2 linked regions of the Homo sapiens genome follow. The main gene of each other region encodes a partner of the protein of the gene in region 2 in a complex. Each region holds a gene or a part of one and is shown on either strand. Other genes may lie near its edges. The genes, in order: USP46 and WDR48. A codon is read from its position in the direction of its gene.

Region 1 (3,910 bases), on a different chromosome or scaffold from region 2:
TTGGCCTGCTCCTCTCAGGTCCTCCCCACACCCTGTCTCCCTGACTGAGTTTCACTGAAACACGTTGTGACATTCAGCCCAGGTGTGCCAGAAAGCCCCCGCAGCACTGAGGGTGGGTGGGGGGACGCGTGGGGGGAGGTTGGGGGCTGGCTTCCTCTAGGGGCATGCTAGCTCTCAAGTTTCCAGCCTGCTTCTACACAGAGAGGTGTAACCACACACAAGCAGGACAAGAACACCACCAAGGGCTGGGTCGGAGCCTCACTACCCTGTAGTATCCTTAGGCCTGCGGCCACACCAACAGACATAAAAGAGTATTCAAGCTGCTCCCGATTCACAGTTCCCTCAGGAACTGGTCGTAGGAGAGAAACTGAGAAGGCATCACCTCTTCACAAGCAGCCCCTCCACAGGAATAAGAGGAAATCTGACTCCTCGCAGAGAAAGGAAAAAAAGAGAAAACAGAAAGGCTCTAGGATCCACTCCCCGTATGGAACTCGCCCGGCACCAACCAGTACCTGTGCAGCTATCACTCTGGGAGGCCCCAGCATTTGCTTTGCTGGCCGTGACAGTGGCACGTCCCATTGTGCTGAAAGCTGAAGCCAGCGGGTCTCAATTCCACCCCTGAGCTAACACAAGGCTTCTTAATGCTCCTTTGCCATGTGTTGATCTTGCAACAGAATGTGGGACAGAAGATTTAAAAAGCTATGTGATGGGGGAAGGGCAGCCAGATCACCTTACACCAGGGCTTCTCCATCAAGCTTCCTTGGATTCCCTTTAGGGGCCAGTATTACTAGCTTCAAGGGAGGTTTTCCTCAAACTGGCACTGTAAGAGCACGTGTTGCCTCCGGGGACCCGCTTGGGAGGGGGCTAGAGGGGAGGCGGGGTGCAGTCTAAAGAATGTAGGCAAAACACACATCATCTCACCCTGCAAGGGACAGCAATGCCTTACTCCAATCTGAGCTCCCCAAAGGCTCTGACAAGTGGAGGCGCCAGCAGGGTCCAGCCTGGGGACCCAAGGGCTGGAGGTTCTTCCTACAGAAAAAGGGAAAGCAATGGGGGAAACCCAAATTAAAGTGACCACCGCATCATGGGCTCGGACTGCATCAGAACCCAGTGATGTCCCTGGCTGTATCCATGCCCGCCAGCCTCCCCTAGGTCTACAGCGGATCAGGCAGGATAACCCTGGAGACCTCCTCCAAGCCCACAGCCCGCCCCACCCTTAGGGCCTGCAAATATTACCGCCACAGAGCCTTGTCCCTTTTTCACAGATGGGGAAACTGAGGCATGCGGAGCAAATTACGGTGCTTTTTCAAACCAGGTTGAAGTTCACTTCTCCAGCCACAATTTTGCACTTTTTTTACAGCTTTATTACATTTCCGATTTCTCCAGATACACAATTGCTATTGCAAAGTGAATTTTAAACACCTCGGAAGGACTGAACTCAAAATGAGATGAGGGCAGTCTGGACGTCCAATAAGGCTGTCTTGACCGCAAGAAGAGGATGGGTGCCCCCCACCTCCAGCTTATCCCCCACCCCCTCCCCGGGGACGTTCAGGTTCGGTCGCTTCCCTTCCCTCAAGCCGCTTCCACCGCAACCCGAGGGCGGGGGGCGCAGCAGCGCGGCCCCGGGATCGCCGGGCGGGTTCCGAGGTCCCGGGGCTGAGACGGGCGCCGGGGGCTCGGGGACCCTCCCCGGCCGCTGAGGTGGCTGCGGCCGCGCGCCCAGCTCGGGGGCCGGGAACTTCTGGCGGCGCGGACCCCGCCGCCCCCGCCGCCCCAGCCACCGGGCGTGTGTGCAGCTCGGGCTTCCCTTTCTTTGCCTCGCCGCGAGTCGGGCGCGACCCCGAGGCGGCTCGGCCACTCACCATATTACAGATGGAGGCGATGTTTCGGACAGTCATTAGTCTAAAGGTTGCAGCGATCCCTCACCGCCATCTTTACAAGGGGAAACCGGGACTGCCCATGGTGGCGCGCTGGCGGGGAGGCCGGGCGGCAGCGCGGCGGCCTGGGGTCCGGCTTTCAGTTTGGCTGGGAGAGGGAGGCCGGGAGGAGGAGGCGGCGGCGCGGGGAGGGCGGGGAGGGAGCGCGGAGGGGCGGGGAGTGGCGGAGCGAGGGAGCCTGGGCCGCGGCCGGCGGCGCGGGGAGGAGGGGCGGCCCGGGCGCGCCGCGTGAGTCCGAGCCGGCCGCTCAGAGCGCTCCAGGCTGGGTTCCCGGGCCCCGCCGCGCCGCCTCCTTCCCAGCTCGCCCGCCCAGGCCTGGCCTCCTGCTTTTCCATTTGATTCCCTGCCTCTTTCTATTCGGACTGGAATGCCGGGCCAGGCTCCGGGGCGCGCCGCTGCGGCAGCCGCACCTCGCAGGTCCCCCGGCCGACCCCGACGCGGAAGCGGCGGCCCTCCTCGCCGTCGGGGAGCCAGGGAGCCGGGGACGGTACGGTGCGCGGGGTGGGGAAGCGGGCGGCCCAGGCCGGGGCGAACCCGGGGCCGCCTTCCGTCCTCGCTTTTTCCTCGTCGCCTTCCTCCTGGCGGGCCTCGGCAGCCCCCGGTGTTTATTTTTTGGCGAGGGGTAGGGGTGGCGACGTCCAACTTTTAGTTCCTCCCGAGGGTTCCAACCAGATGGCACCGGCGGGGACCCAAGAAGTAAAATGGGGCGAGGACACCGGAGCGGTCAGAGAGCCCTCGCCAGCTGCGGGCCGGGCGCCCGAGAAAGGGCGCCGGGAAGGGGGAGGAATCCGGGTCTGGGCGGAGGCCAGCAGCGGCGCGCTCGGGCGGCTTGTGACATTAGCGGGTCCAAAGGAGACGTCCCGGTTCCGCGCAAGCACTAGGGACTGTCCAAGGAGTGGAAAGAACGAAAACAAAACTTTTCCATATCTTCAAGGCAGGCATACCCCTCTCGGGTGCACCCAGCCTCTAGTTGTTGAGATGGGCGCTGTATGGGATCATGCACATTTCCCGCATTAAAGGTCGTGGCTGCGGGCTCAGAGCGCGAGTCTGTGCACCACTTAGCAGATAGGTCCACGCGAATTGAAGGGGCCCGTTTCTGAATGTGTGGAACAGTTACACATACAAGGTTGCAATTCGATGCTTTCAAAGGAGAAATTGTACAAGTGAGATGCGTGATAAATTCTTAGATCAGTGTATTTAATGACAAATTGAATCAGAAGAAAAATTAGTTGAAGATAGCTTTTATCTAACCAAGAGTAAAGATTTGAGAGCCGTTGATTGCTAATATCCCTAGAATCTGGGGAGGAAACAGTAAGACAGACTTGTTGACTGAAGGTTTTGGGAGTCATGTCACTGTGTTTTCCAGTGGACATGAGAAATAATATTCCTGCTTAAGTCTTTCAACCTAAATATTATTTCCAAATACATCCTGATGATAATTTCTTCCATTGTAAGTCATGACTGATTTTCTTCTCTCTCTCTCTGTTTTTTAAGAGACAGGTTCTCGCTATGTTGCCCAGCCTGAGGCTGGGCAGCCCCGAGTCATCCCAAACTCCTGGGCTCCAGCAATCATCCCACCTTGGCCTCCCAAAGCGCTGGGACAACAGGCGTGAACCACTGCACCCAATGTTTACATTCCTGATCTCCTTTAATCGCCACCATAACTATCAGCTGGTACATGCTATTATCTCCTTTTTTGCAGATCAGTCACATAAGGCTTAGAGGATCAAGGATCCTGCCCAGATGACTTACCGAAATGTTACAGATTAAGTTGGTGTGGTAACCTGGGCTGAGCACTCTGGGAGAGGAAGAGAAGAGAGAAGACAGGAAACAACTGAACTATGACCAATCCCAGCACGGAGGCCCAGAAAACTTTAAGATTTGAGTATTAATGTCTCAAGGTCAGGAGCAACCTCAAGGCTAAAACTCAGATCTCAGGACTCAATTTCACAGAAGTTCCACTATAAAGGCAA
Region 2 (3,910 bases):
TTTTAAAAAGTTGCGGGGGAGTAAGAAAATGAAGAGCCAGTGGCAGCTCCAGAACTAATTGAGTGTTTCAAGAAGAAGCTTGCGGTTAGTGGCATTAACCTGCTGTGAGTTGATTTAAGATGTGACTAACATCATGGATTTAAATAAAGAGGGTGGCCTCTGGGTAGAGTCTTAAGGGCAAAAGCCAGGTAGAGTGAGTTGAGTAGTGATTTGAAGGTGAAGAAACAGAAAATTTGACTGGATAATCTTTGAAGAAATTTGATTGGAGGGGTAGGCAGGAAGCGGCGGAAACTAGAGAAGATGTAGGAGTCAGAGGGCCAAAGGAAGCTTTTGATTTTGTTTGGTTTTGTTTGGATATTTGGGTATTTTTCAGATGTAAGAAATTTGAGCATATTTCATTGCTCCTGGGAAGAAGCCAGTAGAGACATTCATGGGTAGATGACAATACAAGGTCATCCCAAGAAGCAAGAGGTGAGGGGGACCGGAGCACAGTCAGAAGGGACACCGTTTTCCTTGCACCAGGGAGAATGATAGAGAAAGTTAAGGGGATTCTGTCAAGGCTTCTCTTTGTTTTGAGAAAAAGGAATCAGAGTCATGTGCTGAGGATAATGGGGAAGGTGGCAAGGTCAGAGGTAGAAGAGAGATTTAGTTGAGATGGACTGCAAGACAGTGACCCCAGGGCTCAAGTCTCCAGTAAATGAGGGAGAGTGGCAGGTTGCTAGATGGCAGTGAAGGAAAGGTGTACCGTTTACTGTTGCTAAATGACATAGGCCTCAGAGAAATAAGTTTTTACATGGGAGATGGTAGAGTAATGGTCTCCATGGAGCATCAAGGAACAATGGGATGTGGGAAAATAAGCAGTCCCCCTTTGAGAAGATGGCCGACAACTGGGACCCTCGAAAGAGCCACGTTGCTGTTAAGATGAGGTGGTATATTATATCAATATCAGCACAATTAAATACAGTTTCTTCCCAAATACTATTTTGTGCTTTTTTAATTTAAATTTTTTATAGCAGCAGATTGTTATTTTAAAAAAGGACCACATTCTTTTTGAAATGTATTTTAGACTGTTTCACTTAGACACATGTGAAAATATGTAAAATTTTGAATAGCAAAGTCAGAATCAAGTGAATTCACCACTTAATATTGATCATTATACTTTCTTTTGATGTATAGGCATGTAAAGTTGAAGATCTGGGCAAAGTGGATTTTGAAGATGAAATTAAGAAAAGATTTAAAATGGTGTATGTGCCAAATTGGTTCTCAGTAGACTTAAAAACAGGGGTAAGTTAGCAATTGATACTTGTATGATTTGGGATAATTGAAGATTTTCATTATAGCTTATAATTATTATTAGTTACAGAGTCCTGTGTTTTTAGGTGTGAAAAAAAAAATTTGTGTTAAAACTTAAAATGCAAAATGGAATAAAAAAGAAAAAAACAAAATTAAAAATATATTAAAAAAGAAAAAAATTTAAAAGTTACAAAATGCCTTTGGTATCCCAGGAAACTAAATTGTGTTGTTGCATTGAATCACACAAAACACATTTTGGTTCCTGAATTTATGACTTAGCACTTTAGTCAAATAGTACAAATAAATGAAGGTTTAGAGACTTGTTTGGAGAATATATTCAAATGGGATGCCACTAAGTTTTTTCTTTTGATAGATGTTAACTATTACTTTGGATGAAAGTGATTGTTTTGCTGCCTGGGTTTCTGCAAAAGATGCTGGTTTCAGCAGCCCTGATGGGTCAGATCCAAAATGTGAGTTTAAGTGTCCTTCATTTTTTTCCTCCCTTCTAAAGAGAAGATGAATATGAGCTGTTTTTTGCTAAGTACTTATCTTTGTAAAAGTTCTCTATATTTTGTTGACTATGTCCTAAAAATGTGGTATGTACAAATACCTAATGTATACAAATCATTTTAGTAATTTCATATGGAAATAGCCGTTTAAAGAATCTGATTCTCGGCCAGGCGCAGTGGCTCACACCTGTAATCTCAGCACTTTGGGAGGCCGAGGCGGGTGGATCACGAGGTCAGGGGATCGAGACCATCCTGGCTAACACGGTGAAACCCCGTCTCTACTAAAAATACAAAAAATTAGCCGGGCGTGGTGGCGGGTGCCTGTAGTCCCAGCTATTCGGGAGGCTGAGGCAGGAGAATGGCGTGAACCCGGGAGGCGGAGCTTGCAGTGAGCCGAGATTGCACCACTGCGCTCCAGCCTGGGTGACAGAGCGAGACTCTATCTCAAAAAAAAAAAAAATCTGATTCTCATGTTTGTTTTTAAATAATAGCTGTATCTGAACAACCAAGTAGAATATGTCTTTGCTCCATAGCATCATTGCTTTAAACATTCTAAGATAAAATTTTAGCAGAATTGGCAAAATGACTAAAGTCTTTATTTTAGACATCATTCGCATTGGGTTAAGAATGTAACATCAGAATATGTACAAACTTACAATTTTTATTCTATTTTTAGGTTAAAGCCAAGTAACTCGCTTTTCCATTTTATCTCTTTTTAATTAACTTTTTTGCAGTGAATTTAGGAGGACTTTTACTCCAAGCACTCCTGGAATATTGGCCTAGAACACATGTGAATCCAATGGATGAAGAGGAAAATGAAGTAAACCATGGTTAGTTTTTATATTCAGATAGTTGCATAAAAAGTTAGAGGTACTTACTTAAAAGGTACTTACTAAAAGGTACTTACTTAAACCGTTAGCTAAAATATTTGTGGTGTACTCAGTTTATTGTCCTCTCTTCCATATCTCAAAGTAGGAACATCCATCCAGTCTTAACTGAGACTGAGATTCCAAAAGAGCAGACCACCTTATGATATGGCTTTTAGTGAGACTGCTCAAGATAAATAAAATACTCTATATTCAGATGACTTTTGTCTTAAAATGAGGCACCTTAACAGACTTATTTCCAAAATATTCTTCAAGGTACCTCTGATCTTTTGGATTAACCTCCAAAGCTAGGTAGTTAGCTGCATCAGAAAGCCAGGTTTGTCATTGCATAGTCACTCTTCATGTTGGGCTGAAATGTTGGTATTTCCTAGTCTCATGGCCTACCTGATTTTGACTCTGTTTCAAAAAAAAATTCAAATTCCAACTCAGAAGTGACAGGGCATATGCTCAAGCATGTGTAAAGAATTAATGTCACTGAGGACATCTGAAACGTGTGTGTGCCATAGGCAGTGGCAGTAACGTTCCCTGAGCAGCAGAGGAGAACATGTTTTGAATATATGCATTTGGCTCAGTTTGATCAAAGGAAGGGGAAACAAGAACTTAGAATTTCACATCCTCATGTGTAACCTACAGCTGGTTGAGGAATCATTGAGTCCCATCGACTGAGGCTTACTCTGCTGAAGATTCTCTGCTGGCCACCAGGAGTGAGCAACAATGGCGAGTACCTCCTGCCAGGGACTTTGTTCTGGCTGTCAGATTCACCCATAATGATATGTGGAATTTAAATCTCTCACATGAGGATGACATGCTTCCTTGAAAACCAGTCTTCTGATGTTCCTGTCAGAGAGAGGGTGCTGTTGCCCCACCCATGGTGGCTTTTCTTTTACATCACCTGACACACTTTGATCCCTGTCAGAATTGTACAGTGGACTTTGAGCTAAAGAAACTGATGGAAAAATCTTTCCACAGAGGGTCAAGAAAGCTAGGTTCTGGGGTGGGCTCTGCTGCTTAACAGCTATGTTGCTGTGGGCAAATCATTTCCAGTTAGATGGGATACTCTCAGCCACCCAAATAAGCAATAAGGATTAAGTTATCAAAACAGTGGTATAGTCATGCACCCTTTGGATCTAGGCTTTGGGTGAGGAGTATAAGGAAGACATCACCAGAAATCACGTCATCCTTAACATCAGACTGCATGGGAAAGGTAGGGCAGGGCATGGC

The links.
Region 1: the proteins of WDR48 (region 2) and USP46 are in contact, whole or in part, in a crystal structure (PDB 6JLQ), measured with the Homo sapiens proteins. Residues at the interface, in NP_065890.1 of Homo sapiens: Arg50, Trp77, Asp118, Tyr119, Lys121, Leu137, Arg139, Ser170, Tyr172, Thr188, Asp211, Asn212, Lys214, Ser230, Gly254, Trp256, Arg272, Ile364, Leu424 (codon at 1,273), Lys425 (codon at 1,276), Gly521; in NP_073743.2 of Homo sapiens: Arg181, Leu183, Asn184, Cys185, Glu186, Thr187, Cys222, Ser223, Glu224, Lys226, Cys232, Cys233, Ser234, Lys235, Gln236, Glu237, Gln239.

Annotation. Positions count from the first base shown.
Region 1 is NC_000004.12:52,657,253-52,661,162, forward strand, and holds the start of USP46 (ubiquitin carboxyl-terminal hydrolase 46), read right to left. Parts: upstream 2,050-3,910; 5' UTR 1,899-2,049; coding exon 1,863-1,898; intron 1,030-1,862; exon of another isoform or gene 922-1,029; intron 1-921. UniProt on the Homo sapiens protein: Deubiquitinating enzyme that plays a role in behavior, possibly by regulating GABA action. May act by mediating the deubiquitination of GAD1/GAD67.
Region 2 is NC_000003.12:39,082,979-39,086,888, forward strand, and holds part of WDR48 (WD repeat-containing protein 48), read left to right. Parts: intron 1-1,176; coding exon 1,177-1,284; intron 1,285-1,666; coding exon 1,667-1,763; intron 1,764-2,536; coding exon 2,537-2,632; intron 2,633-3,322; exon of another isoform or gene 3,323-3,406; intron 3,407-3,910. UniProt on the Homo sapiens protein: Regulator of deubiquitinating complexes, which acts as a strong activator of USP1, USP12 and USP46. Enhances the USP1-mediated deubiquitination of FANCD2; USP1 being almost inactive by itself.